2 separate regions of the Homo sapiens genome follow, and region 1 is linked to region 2. The links come from fine-mapping of genetic effects on gene expression. Tissue or cell type: whole blood. Region 2 holds a variant in brackets; the other region holds the start of a gene. All regions are shown on one strand. Distances are from middle to middle.

Region 1 (8,154 bases), 46 kb after region 2:
ATGGGATACTCTAGGTAATATCTGTAGATACATACGTCTTCCCCATTAGACTCAGGACCCTCGTGAATGACACCATAGATTATTGTTCCTGGGAACCCCAGTGTCTAGCACAGGGCCTAATATATGAGCTACATTTATTAAGAAACATTTGTTTAGCAAATGAATTCTGGATATGGCCAAAAACCCAAACAAGGTAACCCTGATCTATCCTCCAGATGGTACAAAAATGGCCAGGGTCTCCCACTAGCATCTGCCCGGGACTTCCCTGGGCAGCCTCCTTCCACAAATCGGCCCCCTGTTGGGGATGTGCTGATCAGCCAGAAAGATGCTATTAGCCTGCATTATAGCTTAATGTCCCTTGTTTTTAATATCTTCCAGCAAGTCCTTTGTCCTTACTCACCTAGCTCCTTTCCTTTTAGTATTGTCTACTGAATTGAGCCATGCTGTTTTGCCCAAATCTTGCTCTGAAAGAAGCTGTAAGAAACATGGCTAGGATGTTCTGTCTTGTATTTCTGCTAGAGATATCCAGGCCACTCCAATACTTTAAGAGAACCCACAGGAAAATCTGTCTCAGATCTCAATGCCATTAAAATAACTACTTTTCAGAGTAAGTGACACATTTTAATTTTATGAGCACTATGAATCTTGAGATTTTTCTCTCTGCTTGCAGCTGAGAGCCAAATCTACAGTGACCTTACTACACATGCAGGTCTGTCTGTAAGCTAGCTTTTCCTCTTGTTTCATCTTACTATTCTTCCCTTCCTCTAGATGACCATGCTTTATCTTTACTTTTTCCTCTCTCTCAGATCATGTGTATTTTTAGAAGTCCTTTTGGAATGAGGCAAGGTTTAAACAAACCAAAAAATTAAATACAACCCCAAAGCCCCCAATCCCATGCTGTCTTTGGAGATTTTTATCCATGCAGCTTGCCTGCAGGACAAGAAAGTAAAGCTCCACACCACTCTCCTTGCTGTCAACCAGGGGCTGACCTTTATGTGCATTTGTGACAAGAAAGTCTGTAGACCAGAGGCCCCTCCCTTTCGACTTCCTGACCACCAGCTCTAAAATACACATTTGACCGCCAGTGTGAATGGAGCACTATGACTTAAGGCAGAATAGCAAATGGTTAAGAGTGCAGACTTTGGCCAGGCACAGTGATCCCACACTTTGGGAAGCGAAGGAGGGTGGATCACAAGGTCAGGAGTTCAAGACCAGCCTGGATCCTGTCTCTACTAAAAATACAAAAAAAAAATTAGCCGGGCATGGTGGCGGGCTGCCTGTAATCCCAGCTGCTCGGGAGGCTGAGGCAGAGAATTGCTTGATCCCGAGAGGCGGAGGTTGCAGTGAGCCGAGATCGCGCCACTGCACTCCAGCCTGGGCAACAGAGCGAGAGTCTGTCTCAAAAAAAAAAAAAAAAAAAAAAGTGCAGACTTCAAAGCCAGACTACCTGGGTTTTAATACTGCCTGCTACATCCCCCACTCTAACTGTTGACTTTAGACAAGTTAAATAACATTTCTGCGCATCTTTATTTCCCCATCTGTGCAACAGGAACAATATAATGGTACTGATCTCATAAGATTGTTGAGAGCAGCAAATGTGTTAACACGTGTAAAGTGACTATACCATTGCCTAACACACAGTAAATGTGGGACAGTACTACGATAGGACATTTCTGTTTTTGTTTTTTGTACTCTGTTGAGACGGGGTCTTGCTATGTTGCCCAGGCTAGTCTCAAACTCCTAGCCTCAAGCAATCCTCCCACCTCAGCCTCATAAAGTGCTAGGATTACAGGCATGGCCCACTGCTCCTGGCCATCGCTTTTTTTTTTTCTTCAACTAAGCTAGCCCACACAAAGTTTCAACTCTGATTGGCAGTAATGTTTCTCACTGTAAATTACTAAACTGGCAAACCCATTTCTATGGTAACTTTGTGTCTGGATCTCATTTGTAAATTAATGTTGATTCAAAATTCCCTTTATCCTGAATCAAGGACCAGATAAAACAAATTAAAATAAAATAAAATGCAAAGTTCCCTCTAAACACCTGTCATGTTTAACCATAAGCTTTCTGATGTGAAGGAGAAAGGAGGTTCCTGGGAATGTATCCACAATTAGTAACAGGATGACCCTTAAACCCCCAAGTGTGAATGAACCCACATGTATACATTACTGTGTACACACACACACACACACACACACACACACACACACCTGTCAATGTCCCTCCATTTGCAATATAGACAGCATTTAATACGCATGAAGAGATTTTTAAAAAGGGCATTCTTTAACGTATTTCAACTGGCAGCAGGTGATCAGAAAAAAATAAGATAAATAAAATATTGTTTAGCTATCAAAGAACAACTCTGCACTGTTAGATACTTAAGGTCCTGATTTGCACCTGAGTTTAGAAAGCTACCTCATACATATGCACTTAAAATGGAAATTTCTCATCAGATTCCACATCTAATGCAATGCAGAACCCAACTCTAGCTGTGCCCCATCTTTGCCCAGGGCAGAGCCAGTCTCAGCAACTTCCTTCACACTCAGCCCACCAAGATGTCAGTCCTCAGTGAAGCACTATTCCACATACGTACGTACATGATTATCAAATAAAGGGACTTCATACTCCAACTGCAGGAACGCAAAGAAACAAAACTAGATAAGTATGAAAGCTATAGAGTTTAGGAAAATCAAGGAAAAAAGTAATCACTGAAACTCATCTCTTGCAAAGAAAGTTACTTCAAAATTTGACGTAAATGGATTAAATTTCAGCATTTCGCTATACCGAAATTACACTATGGGAAGAAAAAACCCAAGAATACATCGGAGCCATTTATCTTCCATTTCCTGTATTTCCCTTAATTACCTACCCAAATGAATGCACGTAAGAGTTGTTAAAGTATTGAAATACGTCAGTCCTTTCTAATTACCTACCCAAATGAATGAGCGGAACAGTATGTTACAACTTTTAATTAAAATACGTCAGTTTCTTTTACAATTATCTTATTTCTGCATATCACAGAAAATATTCTAAGAACAGAGCAAAAATGAACAAGGACAATCCGCCCAGAAAACTGCTTTGAGGAATTTAGTAATCTCAGCCCTCTCAGGTTTAGCACGCCAACGTCTTTGGGAGAGCAAAGGCAAAGGAGATGATAAAATGACACTTCCAAATAGCAACAGCTGAGATCACTGCCGCATCCTAGATTCTTTCCACCAGGAGCGCGAGTATAGGGTTTTTTTCTAAACGCTCTTCCCAAGATCCCGAGGTCAATTTCAAACGCTGCTCCACGCTTAAGTCCCGAGGGAGGCTCGCTCGCCCACCCCACCCTGCAGGGATTGCACTTCCCGTTCGCTCTGGCCGGTCAGGAACCCTAACTTGACAGTGACAAACACTGAGAAAAGAGGAAGTGGCTAAAGATCATTTCATGACATTTTTTAAAGGGAGATCAATGGCCCTGTCTTTCCGGAAAACTTCCATGGGACGTTGCCATCACACCCTCTGAAAGTTTCAGCGAATGACAACGTAGCAAAAGTGAGGGCTACTCCCCTTTAAATATATATATATATATTAATCCTCGAAATCCTCTTGCTATCAAAATCGATCCCTCCTCCGTAACAGCGAACGCAAAACTAAGAGCGCCCATCCCGGTGGGGCCGATCTCGGAAGCCAGGCTCGGGGCCGGGTGCGCGCCGGGTCCTCCCTGCCAAGCTGCAGAGGAGGCGCCGGCACCGCGGCGGTCGCAGGACCTGGCAAGCGCCTACCTTACCTCCCTCACCTGGTTTGACTGGTTTGGGTGGCGGCTTCGACATCTCGCTTCCTGGAGCTGCAAATCCTAAAGACCCCGCCGAAAAGCCCACCGCTTGCCCGCCACCTGGCACTCCGGGCACCCCAGTTCTTTTTGTCTGGCTTACAACCGTGCGCCTCCTAGGACCGGCGCCCACCCTTGGCTGCGGGAAGAGCGGACGCAGGCAGAGCGGCTCCGCCGAGTGCTCCGCCCCGCCCCGCGGCCGCCGGAGCAGTCCAGAGCGCGCGCCGGGCCGACGAGGAAGTGGACCCCGCCTAGCCGAGCGCTAATTGGCTCCCGGGCTGGCAGCTTCGCCGCAGCAGGAGCGCGGGCGGCGCGCACGGCGGCGGAACCAGCCGGAGCCGAGCGAGGGCGAAGCGGGCGTGCGCCAGTGCAGTGCCGCGGGCCGCGCGCGCTCCCGATAGGGAAGGGCCGGAGCTGCGCAGGGGCGCGCGGAAGAGGCCAAGCTAGCCGGAGCCCCGCCCCGCCCCGCCCCGCCCCAACGGGGGCTGGAACCCGGCGCCGAGAGTAGAGAAAAGGGGCCTCTGGTGACCGCCCCTACCTGGCATCCCTCTAACCCAGGAGGAGCGTGGGGAAAGGGGCTGTGGGCCTCTCGGGGAGCGAGCTGCGGGTAGCGGCGCACTGGGTACAGGCGCGCGCTTGGCTGTCGCCTCTGCCGCTGTGTTTGGGAGGACTCGAACTGGCGCCAGGTGAGTGCGTACCTGCTCGCCCCTGCCGCGCCGCGCCGCCTTGCTGGGGCCTGGAGGTGTTTCCAGAGGGTTTCTGTGCTGGAGCCCGGGACTTGGTTGCGCCCTGAAAGCCTTGCCTGGACTCTTGCCACCCTCACAGAGCTGATAGGTGGCCTGCCGAGGAGGACGTGTACTCATGGTGGCGTGGTGCTCTAGCGCCCCGGAATAATCCTGAAAATGGGAACGCTGCCTCCAAGAGACCGCGCAGCCTGGAGAAGTCGCCAGGGACAGGATCAGGACTTGATCCTCGCGGATCGATATGGTCTCATTCCTCTAGCGTTGGGGTGATGACCTACTGCCCGCCTGCTGCCTGTTACTGTAAGGCCTGCTAAGAATTTTTTTTTTTTTTACTTTTTTTAATGACTGAAAAGAAATAAAAAGAAATATAATACTTTGTGACACGTGAAAATTACATGAAATTACGATTTCAGTGTCCGTAAAATTTTACTGGAACACGGTCACGCTCATTTGCATCTGTGTTTTCTGTGGCCGCTTTCGCATTACCCAGCAGGGTTGAGTAGCAGCTGGCAAAGCCCAAAGCATTTCCTGTCTGGCACTTTACAGAAAAAGTTTTCCTACCCCTGATCTATCGGATTGAATCTTCGGTGGGAGGAAAGAACTGGAGCACACAAGGAAGCCAATGGCATAAGTTCAAAATAACAGTCAATATTGTAAATTAATTGTATATTTGGGGAAAGAAAAAACTGTTTACCTAAGAACCTACATAAATGAAACCAATGGGGGAGGGGCATGAATTGCGTTTTCAAAAACCCCAGCCCTTCACGTCTGTAATCCCAGCACTTTGGGAGGGCAAGGCGGGTGGATCACGAGGTCAAGAGATCAAGACCATCTTGGCCAACCTGGTGAAACCCGATCTCTACTAAAACTGCAAAAAATTAGCCGGGCGTGGTGGCAGACGCCTGTAGTCCCAGCTACTCGGGAGGCTGGGGCAGGAGAATCACTTGAACCCAGAAGGCGGAGGTTGCAGTAAGCCGAGATTGCGCCACTGCACTCCAGCCTGGCAACAGAGCGAGACTCTGTCTTAAAAAAAAAAAAAAAACCCAGCCTTGAGGGATTTGTTTACCAAAAGGGAGCAAAGTTTAAACAATAGTAGGAAAAGACTGCCCTATCTCCTGGAAGAAGAGAATCAAAATAGCTGTTGGATAGAATACAGAGTAAGAAGTCCTGGAAACATTTTTCTCTTTTTAAAATATCAGACTGTCCTGTAGATACATTTGAAGAGCACATTTAGCTTTGTCAGCTGTCTTTCAGATCATTTGCGTTAGAGAGCTGCGTTAGAGAGTTCGTACAATCTGCTGATTCTGCACATGCCACTTCTGACCATTCTGCAGTTTAGAATCCAAAAGGCAAGTGTTTAGTAGTGAAATGAATTAAGCATAATAAACACACCTGAATTATTTTAAAAAACCCAACATTTTACTTAGGGTTAAAAAAAAGTGTAAAAAATAAAATTAGTCATTTCAGGTTTGCTCTTGGCTATCCTAGTTTGTTCTCCTGCTATGCAAAAGCTCTCCGCTGTTGAGGAAAGCCTTGCACGCACTGGGAAAATAAACTACACAGATATTCCATGAGATTGAAGGTGGTGTGGATTCTAGTGATAGACGTGCCCTGAAATGATGACTCTTTGGACACATCACATGATTTACAGTTTGTACGAAGCTTGCATTTGCTTCATGAAGCCTGGCAACTCAATTGCGAGCTTTTTAAATTTGATTTTTTGTTTTGTTTTTGGTTTTATGGGAGGCAGTTTTTGGGTTGTTTTTTGCCTGTTTGTTTTGGTTTTTTTCAAGATAGGGTCTCGCTGTGTCACCAAGGCTGCAATGCAGTGGCACAGTCATGGCTCACTGCAGCCTTGGTGATTTTTTTTATAGGGGCAACAGGCAATGAAATAGTAGAATGTGATGTGGAGGTGGACAGTGCCAGGCCTGAACTTGGAGCTCCCCTAAAGCTGCCCTGTGCATCCACACTGTTTTTGAAATAAATGCCTTCAGGGATTGCTAGGCCCACCCCCCACCCCGCCCTAGTCACTTAGCCCAGTTGCCTCTCTTGTCTCTGCATGTTCCAGTTACCCACCCTTCCCATCACATTGTCACTTGCTCATAGCTGATAGGGTATGCCCAGCATTTACCCAAACACTGGCTTGGACAGGCCCAGACTGCTAACTAATGTAGAACTGGGAGTTCCTGTTTTGGTTAAAAAAAAAAAAAAAAAAAAAAAAAAACTTACATTTGACTGTATCTGAGAGATTTTATAAGTAGGTTTTTTATGCCATCTTACTCCTGGTTCCTGAATGCAAGTAACCCCCTCAAGCCTATTTCCCATGCCACAACCATGCTCACTTGTTATTTACATGCCATGTAATTGATGCAATGGTCACACGTGTAACCACAGATGTGGCAGTTTAGGACGGGGACCAGTAGTCCTTTCCATTCTGTGTGCACAGCAAATAGATGCCCCATCAATAATACATCAGTAAGAATGACATCAATTATACATCAGAGCCTGACAATTAAGCTAGCACATACCTAACACCCTTTCTTTGCTGTTAGTAATAAAGTGCTTTTTAGCAGCTTGGAGTGATAGAAAGAAGTCAGCTCAATTGGTTTAGTTTAATATCTGGCTTTTCCACTTACTGTCTGTGTGACCTTAGGCAAATTGCTCTATTGTCTGAGCCAGTTTCCACTTATGCAAAATGAAGGGGTAGACCAAGTAATCGCTAAAGCTATACTTCTCCAAGTTTGAGAATTTATGCTTCAGCGAGCTATCCAAAAATAATGGGGGCAAGGAATGACAAGGTTTTATGAATTTTTATTTTATTTGGTAAAGTGAGGATATCACTCTACTAACATCTTCTGACAACATAGTTTTGTAAGAGAAAGAACATTTATCACCACAAAAGTGAGATAAAGAGCAGCCTCTCCCTTCCCAAAAAAAGGCTAATTGGCAGCATTGAACCGACATACCAAAAAAATAAGAATAGGGTAAAATAAAATTCAAAAGCAGAAAAATTACAACATAAAAATGTATTTTACAATATTCATTGTATGCAGTCATTCCCTCGATACATCTTGTAAATTTGGATGGAGATGTGTATTCAACAACATAACTCTGGATGAAACTTAAATATGCAACTTGTCTGCTATTTTATTTTATTTTTTAAGACAGGGCCTCACTCTGCCACCCAGGCTGGAGTGCAGCGGCTCAATCTCCACTCACTGCTACCCCCACCTTGTAGGCTCAAGCAATCCTCCCACCTCAGCCTCCGAAGTAGCTGGGACTACAGGAGCATGCCACCATGCCTGGATAATCTTTTGTATTTTTGGTAGAGGTAGCGTTTTGCCATGTTGCCCAGGCTGGTCTCAACCTCCTGAGCTCAAGCAATCCGCCTGCCTTGGCCTCCCAAAGTGCTGGGATTATAGGCATGAGCCACAGTGCCCTGCTGCTATTTTATCACAGTCATTATTGATTCTTGTCTCACATAGACTTGTTAATGGAAGTGGACCCCAGTCTTAAGCAATTGTACTCAATGTGGGATATTTAGATAAGCCAAGAAGTCAGACAACAATAGCCCTCTTCCCACCAGGCTTTTTTCTGCAT
Region 2 (8,203 bases):
TTATAAAAACAGGGGATCAAGATATCCTCTCTCGTTCACTTTACATCTAGCACCTGCTCAGCTCAAAGCAGGACATTGCAGCCGCATCATTCTTGCTTATCTGTCAAGACTTCCCTGTGAGAACAGGGGCCTCAGCAACTTTACCTATACAGCTTTCTCAGACAGGATCTCCCCAACACACGTGTACACATACATTCTTTGTTTCTAAGGCTCTATAATCCTGCAGAAACATACAATACAGTTCTTACTAAAAGTAATATATGTAATGTTAAAGCTTGCCATGGTTTTAGTTTATATTAAAAACTAACACAAACCAACCCCCAATAATTTTATTTTATCATAACTATTCCATGATACACAGGCAGAGCAAAGGTTAAACCCTATTTTGAAATAAGACTATTATTCTTCCTACCATTTCAAATGGCGTAAGTTGATATAGACTATTTTTCAGGGCAAGCAAAGACCAGATAAACTCAGCACAAACTTTACCTTTTGCCAGAAGCAACTGGACGATATCTGCATAACCCTTCCAGGCAGCAGCATGCAAAGCTGTATCTCCCAACTTGTTCTATAGTGATAAAAAGAGAAAGTACCATTTTTAAGATAGAGGGTGGATTGAAAGTACATGTTAATTCAGGTTTAACCCAGTTAAACCTAAAAGTTAAACCTAAAATGGGAACAAAGTTATAGAACCACATAAAATTCCAAAGAGAAAAGGAAAGGAGACTCAAGAGATGGGAGAGGAGTCATTTTTGGGAGATGGAATAGGATGGAGGAGTACAAGCTGACTTGGTGGAGCACGAGCTGAAAAGCACATGCCTGCGGAGGGAGATCCAGGAGGAAGGAAGCAGATTTGAACATGCAGAAGCCTGGCAAAAATTAGGAATTGGAGATTCCTGGAGGTGCTAGGGCAGGCATGAGGCATGGGTGGGAAAACAGAGATATTGGTTTAAAGTACTCATAAAAAGTAGAATCTCAGAACCTCTTCCCCTTCTCTTGCTGCCAGATGACCCAATAATGATGACAGATTTACTTGTTGAGAAATTAACCTGATAGTTTCCAAGTTCATGAACACTAGGTACAAGAGAAGTAGCAAAAGGCCAGAAACTCAAACCTGAGGGTTAGGTAAAAAACCTACAGACTGAACAGTAAGACCCCTCTCTCAGGTACCTTTACGTACCCCACTGCCCAGTGTGCACATACCCCCAGGCAGGAGACTGGAGGGCACTTCTCTGGTGAAGCAGTGCAGCCCCATGTGCAGGGAAGGGAAGGAGTGTCACTTTCATTAGCATTTGGGTGTCACCTAGCAAAATAGCCAGGACCTCACCACATCACCCTATGGAGAAGCCCAACCGCCAGCAGGCCTCACCAAGCACACACAGCTTCCAATCACACCTAAAAATGAATGGATAAGGGCCAGGCATGGTGGCTCACACCTGTAATCTCAGCACTTTGGGAGACCGAGGAGAGCGGATCACCTGAAGTCAGGAGTTCGAGACCAGCCTGGCTAACGTGGTGAAACCCCGTCTCTACTAAAAACACAAAAATAAGCCAGGCCAGTGGCATGGGCCTGTAGTCCCAGCTACTTGGGAGGCTGAGGCAGGAGAATAGCTTGAACCCGGGAGGCAGAGGTTGCAGTGAGCTGAGATTGCGCCACTACGCCCCAGCCTGGACAACAGAGCGAGACTCCATCTCAAATTAAAAAAATAATAATGAATGGATAATGACACCAAGTGTTCGTGGAAAGCCTACAATATTTTAGTAAAGACCAAAACAAACAAAATAAATGGATCTCAAAGGGAAAAAACACAGTACAGTGAAGAGCCAAAAAACATAGTTTGAAAAGTTATAAATATTATATCAGCAAGATATAAGATCATATTGTGTCATGAAACAAGAAAAAGATACTACGTAAAAGTAACAATCAGAGTAAAATAAGGGCTTATAACAGAATTCTAAGAATGGCCCCCAAGGTTCCTGGCCCTGGTACAGGCCCCCTCCTCTTGACTGCAAGTGAAAGCAGTGAATGTAACAGGCTATCACTCCCATAATTAGGTTTCTAGTCAGCGGATGTTGAATTCTTCAAAAGGGACATTATCCCAGGTGGGCCTGACCTAACCAGGTGGGCCCCTAAAAAATAAAAACAATGAAACAGCAGAGAGACAATCTCCTTCTGGCCTTGAGGAAGAAAGCAAACAGCCATACTGTGAGCTGTCTACAGAGAGGGGTGGCCTCTAAAAGCTGAGGGCCTCAGTAATACTACAGTTAGAAGAAAATCAATTCTTCCTACAACCTAAATGCACTTGGAAGAAGACCCCAAGCTCCAGATGAGAATCCAGCTCCAGCCAATCCCTTGATTTCCACCTGGGAGACCCTGAGCAGAGAACGCAGCTATGCCATGCCCAGAATTCTGACGTACAGAAAGTATAAGCTGCTAAGCCTGTGGTCGTTTGCTAGGCAGCAATAGAAAACTAATACAGAACTCTGGGGAATTAAAAAGATAACCAAAATAAAACAAAGGTGAGAATATCTCTGGGAAAAATTAAGAAAACTGAAGGTTCAATCCAAGAAGTCCAACATCCTACTAATGGGCATTCCAGAACCAAAAGAACAAAGAAGGGTCAGATAAAAATTCTAAAAGAAATACAAGATAATTTTCCAGGCTGAAAGAGTTCATCATAATCATTGGGAAGAGATGAATGCTAGCACATCATCATAAAATTTGAAAACACCAACAATAAAGTAAATACTCTTAGCAAGAGAAAAAGCAGATCATACATAAAAGAATGGGAATCAAAATGGCACCAAATCTCTCAAAAGCAACCCTGGAAACAAGAATGCCACAGAGCCATGCCTTCAAAATTCTAAGGGAAACTGTTTTTGACCTAGAATTCTGATCAGCCATATAATCAATCCCAAGCTTCTCTTTCTCAGGAATCTACTTGAAGATGTTCTCTGACAAAAGAAAGACAAGGGATCCAGAAAAATGAAGATGCAACATGGCAGAGAACGGAAGGGGTTCCCTGGAGGACAGCAAAGGGCCACAGGGACCAAGCTGCTCAGACTGGAGAATGATGGAGAGCTTCAGGAAGTAATGAATCCAGGGAGAAAAAAGAAAGCTGTTGATTATCTTACACATTTTGGAAAAGTATTATATATCAAGACTGTATAAAACAGTAGAGAAGTCACAGTGAGATAACAAAAAATGAGTTTTAAAAAGTAAGTACAGAAACAAAAAAAGGTTATATAAGCAGTGAACACTATTTAGACACCCATAATAAAGTAAATATTATATAGTAATATAACCAAAAACTGTGATGAAGTACACTGAGGAGCAGAGGAGAACAGGCTTGGTGCTGGGGTGCTGAAAGATGAGAGCTGGGGCAGCTGACAAGCTTAACCCTTCACATACCCAACAGGAGGCCAAAGTACACATGAAGACAATGCATGGCGAGATAGCTCCGTCAGCCTATTCCTTAGTAACACAAAGGTAAGTACAGGAAGAAAGAGCTAAAAGCTGAAAGTGACATATGAGGAGGAGTGGGTTTGGCACTTGGGGCTGTGGATAATTTGAATTTTAGTACAATTATAATTTTTAAATTATGTGCTTGTGGGATTTTGACTACAATACTTCACATGCCCATGAGTTGCTCTGTACTAAAGACAACAAGCAGGTATGTGTTAAATAATTTTCAAATAAGCAGTCTTACCTGCTGGTTCAGTTCAATATTTGGTTGAGTAAATAGCATTTCCACTATATCTGAAATTCAAAGAGAAAAGATACCTTTTAAGAACGAAAATTAGAAGCCTGACAAATCTAGGTACAATAATTTTATAAAAGAGAGATTCTTCAGAAGAACCTTCAAGAAAATGTTAACACATTTTGTAAAATTTATAAAATAGAAAAACTTAAGAATCTAAAAAGTGGAATTATTTAGGAAAATATACTTTTTCTAATAGTTTTGGCTTTTGCATTTTCATATGACACTTAGAGGAATATTTTTACATTCACTATAATACTTTTCATTCATATAACTAACATGTTTATTAGCT[G/A]AAATAAGATAGGCTTCTTTTTAGTAGACAGTTACAAATTTTCCTTTGGCACTGCTATTTAATTTGTTGAGATCTTCATTTCTTATTGTTGTTGAGTTTATTTCTTTTGTTATAGAGAGAGGTAGAAAAGCGGTGGGTGATAAATTTTTGTCCAGGAAGAAATACATCTAAAAATTCAATTTGTCATTATTATTGATTACAACAGAAAAAGTATCAATGGAATCACTAACTTTGGCAAATGTTGGCTTTCTCTTGAATCTAATAGTTTGCATTAAACTTAAAATGCAAATCATAAAAGAAGACCTTGTGAAAAGCTAAGCTAGAGGAGCAAATTCTGATCTTTCCTTCTGTAAGATTAGACAGTGGTTTTGTTTTTATATTACTGCTGTTTTCCAGTAACCTTTCTAAGCCTGAGAGAGGAAAGGAAGTGTCCAGTCTTTCAAGCGAGAGGGACCCATGCAGTGAGGCTGACTGACCACATTCTACCCACTGTTCTACAGAGCTTCCAGGAACAAGGGTTTTGGCCGGTATTCTAAAGGATTCAAAAAGAATAGCCAATGCTTTTCCTTTCTCATTTTTTGTAAATCTGGCTCCCGTAGGTGAAACACATTTTCAGCAGCATAGAAACATATAACAAACAAAATGTAATACCTTTGTGGCCCCCGTGGCAAGCCCAGTATAAGGCAGTGCTTCCAGCTTTGTCTAAGCCATTAACACCCACTCTGTTGTCCAAACACTCTCTCAACCAGCTCAAGTTGCCTGAAAGAATTTTACATTTACAAGAACACAAGAAAAAAAGCTTTCACTTTTTATTTTGCTTTTAAATCAATGTCATTCTGCATAAATTTCCATTTGCAATGGATTAATCAGCAAGTATTAAATTAAGACCTCCCCATTAATGCATTTATTATGGTACATTTTGACTTCCAGCTTATTAATGGAAAGTATTAACATCAATGTTTCTAATGATAAGTTAATGGGAATAGTTGCCCAAATGGGTATACTTAAGGTATTTCTATTCTGTTAAAAAATATATAGGGGTGTGTGTGTGTGTGTGTGTGTGTGTGTGTGTGTGTGTGTATGTGTGTGTATGTGTATATATTATTTTTTTCTTTGTGAAATTCTGGAAATTGAGGAAAAAACAATCAAACCTAAGAACAAGCAGATACTATTCATATTCATATTTAAAATGCATCTTCAGTTCCTATAAGAAAGGCTAAATAACCTACTCAAAGCTGCTGCTCTTATATGCTAAACTATAACTATTAATTTAAAATCCTCAGGCTAATGTCCCAAGTATCTAATTCACAAAGAATTTTTTAAATGTCAGTTTAGTCCTTTTACTTTTTCACAATCCTAACCAATAATTTCCTTGTGTACATTCAGATTTCCAAAAAAATCTAAAAATGGAATGAAATGGAGCTCATTGAGGCTTTACAAAAACTCCCCATTATCTACAGCAGGGTTTCTCAGCAGCAGCCCCATTGGCATTTGGGGTTGGATTTATTGTGGGGGTGCTCCTGTGTGCTGTAGGATGTGTGGCAACAACGCCTGCCTCTCCCCAAAAGATGCCAGTAACATCCCTCCAGTCATGACAGTCAACATGTCTCCAGATATTGCCAAATACCCTCGGGGTTTGTGAAAGAGGAATCACCCCTAGCTGAGGACTACTGATCTACAGAATAAAGCCCAAGACAAGGCTGATCGTTGTTTGGTCAAGGATCTTCCCCAGGTTCATCCCTGTTAGTCATGCCCTCCCTGGCCAAATGCTCACCACACCAACGCTCTCCTAAATGCTGTACCCACCAGACCCTTCCATTCTCTTGCCCTCCAGTTACTCACCTGGGCCTCTACGGCCTGTCAAACACATTTCAATTGCTGTACTTATCATACCATATTTTAATGATCTGTTACATCTCTCTCTCCCCTGCCAGATGTTGTGCTTTGGAAGTCACAGACCATGTCTTTCGACTTGCATCTCCCCACAACAGTGTTTCTTGACTGACATTTTAAAACTAAAATCACACTTCTCTAGGGTAGTAGATGTTGGGACAGACTGTAAGGCAGGGATTTAACTGAGAAGGTGCAAAGGGAACTTTCTAGGATGGCAGAAATGTTCTAGATCTTGATCTGGGTGTTGGTTACGTGGGTGTATGCACTTGTCAAAGCTAATTGAAATCCGTGCCTTTTACTGTACTGCATACCTCAGTCAAAAAGAATCACACCTACCTCTTTTTGCTGCTTCATGCAATGGATTGTCAATGGATTCTGCCTGCTCAGCCACTAGATTGAAAATAAAAAGTGTTAACCCAATGTGGAATTGCCACACAAATGATTTACTGAAGCCACTCATTCACCACAGTCCCCCAGCTTCAGGAGTACCAGGGCATTCAACACAGTTTCCTTTACTTAATGTGGATAAAAAGTAACAGAAAATCAAATGGATAGTTCTTGCATTAAATGAAGCTGAATTATGTGTTTAGGGAAACCAAGCCAAGCAATAAGGCAATAACATAGTAATTAACTGGAAGTATAAACAAAAACAAACAAACCCGCATACCTGAGTTAAATGCACACTTGATATTACTCAAGTATTTAATAAACAAAGTCACAAAAATGCAAAAGGAAGCATTTGATGTTCATTTTTACATTTTGTAGATCACTCTGCTTTAAAGATACCTGAAAATAATTTTGGTTCTCTTGTGTGTATTTATGTAGGATCGGATGAGGGGAGTATTTTGCTTCCTGTATTCAGAAAGAACAATCAGCATAGCTACCTGCCTCTTAAAGAAGGCATGTTCGCTGCTGTCCTAGAATCAGTAGGAAGTGTTATTAGGAAATGGAAGAAAGAGGATTAAAACTCAGGAGCCTTGTTTATCAATTCTGTGCTCTTTTGACTTGATTCTGCTGACAACTAAACAAGTGTTTTATCTGTTTGTCCCACTTCCAGCTTGAAGCAGCTTCATGGCGGGAGCCGTGTCTCTCATCTCTCAAAGTCTCCAAACTGCCATGATAAGCATTTAATGAACATCACTGCCCCAAACATGAATGAACAAGGCCGGGTTACTCCATCACAAAAGAAACGGCTAGTCTAAGAAACTATCTGCAAGATTGAGTTTATCAGCATTAAAAAAAATTGTTTTAAGGGTTGAAGAAAGTAAAACCATAAGTGTTTCCTTGGAAACCTTGGGTTAAGAATGCTAAAATGCATTCTCTTAGGCCACAGAGTCAGGCTCAAGCACATCTGGTGTTCATGGCCAGTTTATTAACAGAAGGCTCATGGAATAGAAAATGTCCTAGACTGACAATGACTCCATTGCTTTCTCAGCCACAGTAGCAAGCAGAAAAGCATCAAGAACCAAAAAATTCCAAGTGAACGAAGCTAAAGTAAAACCACTCAGCAACACTTACCATAGTTGCTTGGAATTAGTCCAGTCCTGCCTTTGGAGGTGCCTTTCCACCAATTGGTATCGCTCTGGTAAAAGAAGAGTTAAATTAAGTGGTATGAAATCCAGACTGCATTCATTCACTTTTCAAATTATCTAGCTCCTAGGGAGTACCTGTTCTACAAAATGTCCATCAACCCTACCCACACTATCAAGCTTCCTCACGCCCTAGCTGTGGGTGTCCGTCTCCCTTACCACTCAGTTACAAATAAACACGCATCTGCCTGCAACAAATGGAATACGTTTCATGACAGAGTCTCAACAACCAAACAAATAAGAGATGACATGAAACAGAAGAAAACAAATTACGCTAGTTTAGACTAGCTATATGATTTTTTGTCCACAGTTTCATTTCTCTTAGCTTTGAGATAATTTTTTTTATGGGGGAGGAAGTTCTAAAGATCTCTTTATATTATCTTCATTTTGGGGGTAACTTGTTATTATAGAAAAATTTAAACTTACAAAAAAGTAGAAAGAACAATGTAATGACCATATATATACCCATTTCCCAACTGCACAAATCATTTATTAATGACCAATATTGTTTCATATATGCCCCCATGACGTCCCTCCCCTCCTGGATTATTTTAAAATAAATTCTAGACATCATATTATTTCATTTGTAAATATTTCAGTACGTATCTCTGAAAGACACATACTTTTTGAAAGGCAATTATAATGCCATTATCACAGCTTAAAAGTTT

What was found. PIP is the estimated chance that this variant, and not a neighbour inherited with it, causes the effect.
Region 1: OSTF1 starts here. The variant in region 2 is fine-mapped to the expression of OSTF1 in whole blood (INTERVAL, PIP 0.95).

The regions. Positions count from the first base shown.
Region 1 is chr9:75,084,351-75,092,504 of GRCh38, reverse strand. It overlaps OSTF1 (osteoclast stimulating factor 1), which reads right to left and starts at 3,991. Exons shown (of 10, transcript NM_012383.5): 1 at 3,779-3,991. The coding sequence starts at 3,812. It overlaps NMRK1 (nicotinamide riboside kinase 1), which reads left to right and starts at 4,350. Exons shown (of 9, transcript NM_017881.3): 1 at 4,350-4,497. RefSeq lists silencers at 3,601-3,690, 3,881-4,480.
Region 2 is chr9:75,129,903-75,138,105 of GRCh38, reverse strand. It overlaps OSTF1 (osteoclast stimulating factor 1), which reads right to left. Exons shown (of 10, transcript NM_012383.5): 4 at 7,465-7,528; 5 at 6,283-6,336; 6 at 4,705-4,812; 7 at 3,711-3,760; 8 at 490-568. Among named protein-coding and RNA genes, the nearest start is that of OSTF1, 45 kb to the right of the region's middle. RefSeq lists an enhancer at 854-1,353. The variant G/A (reference allele first, on the strand shown) is at 4,054.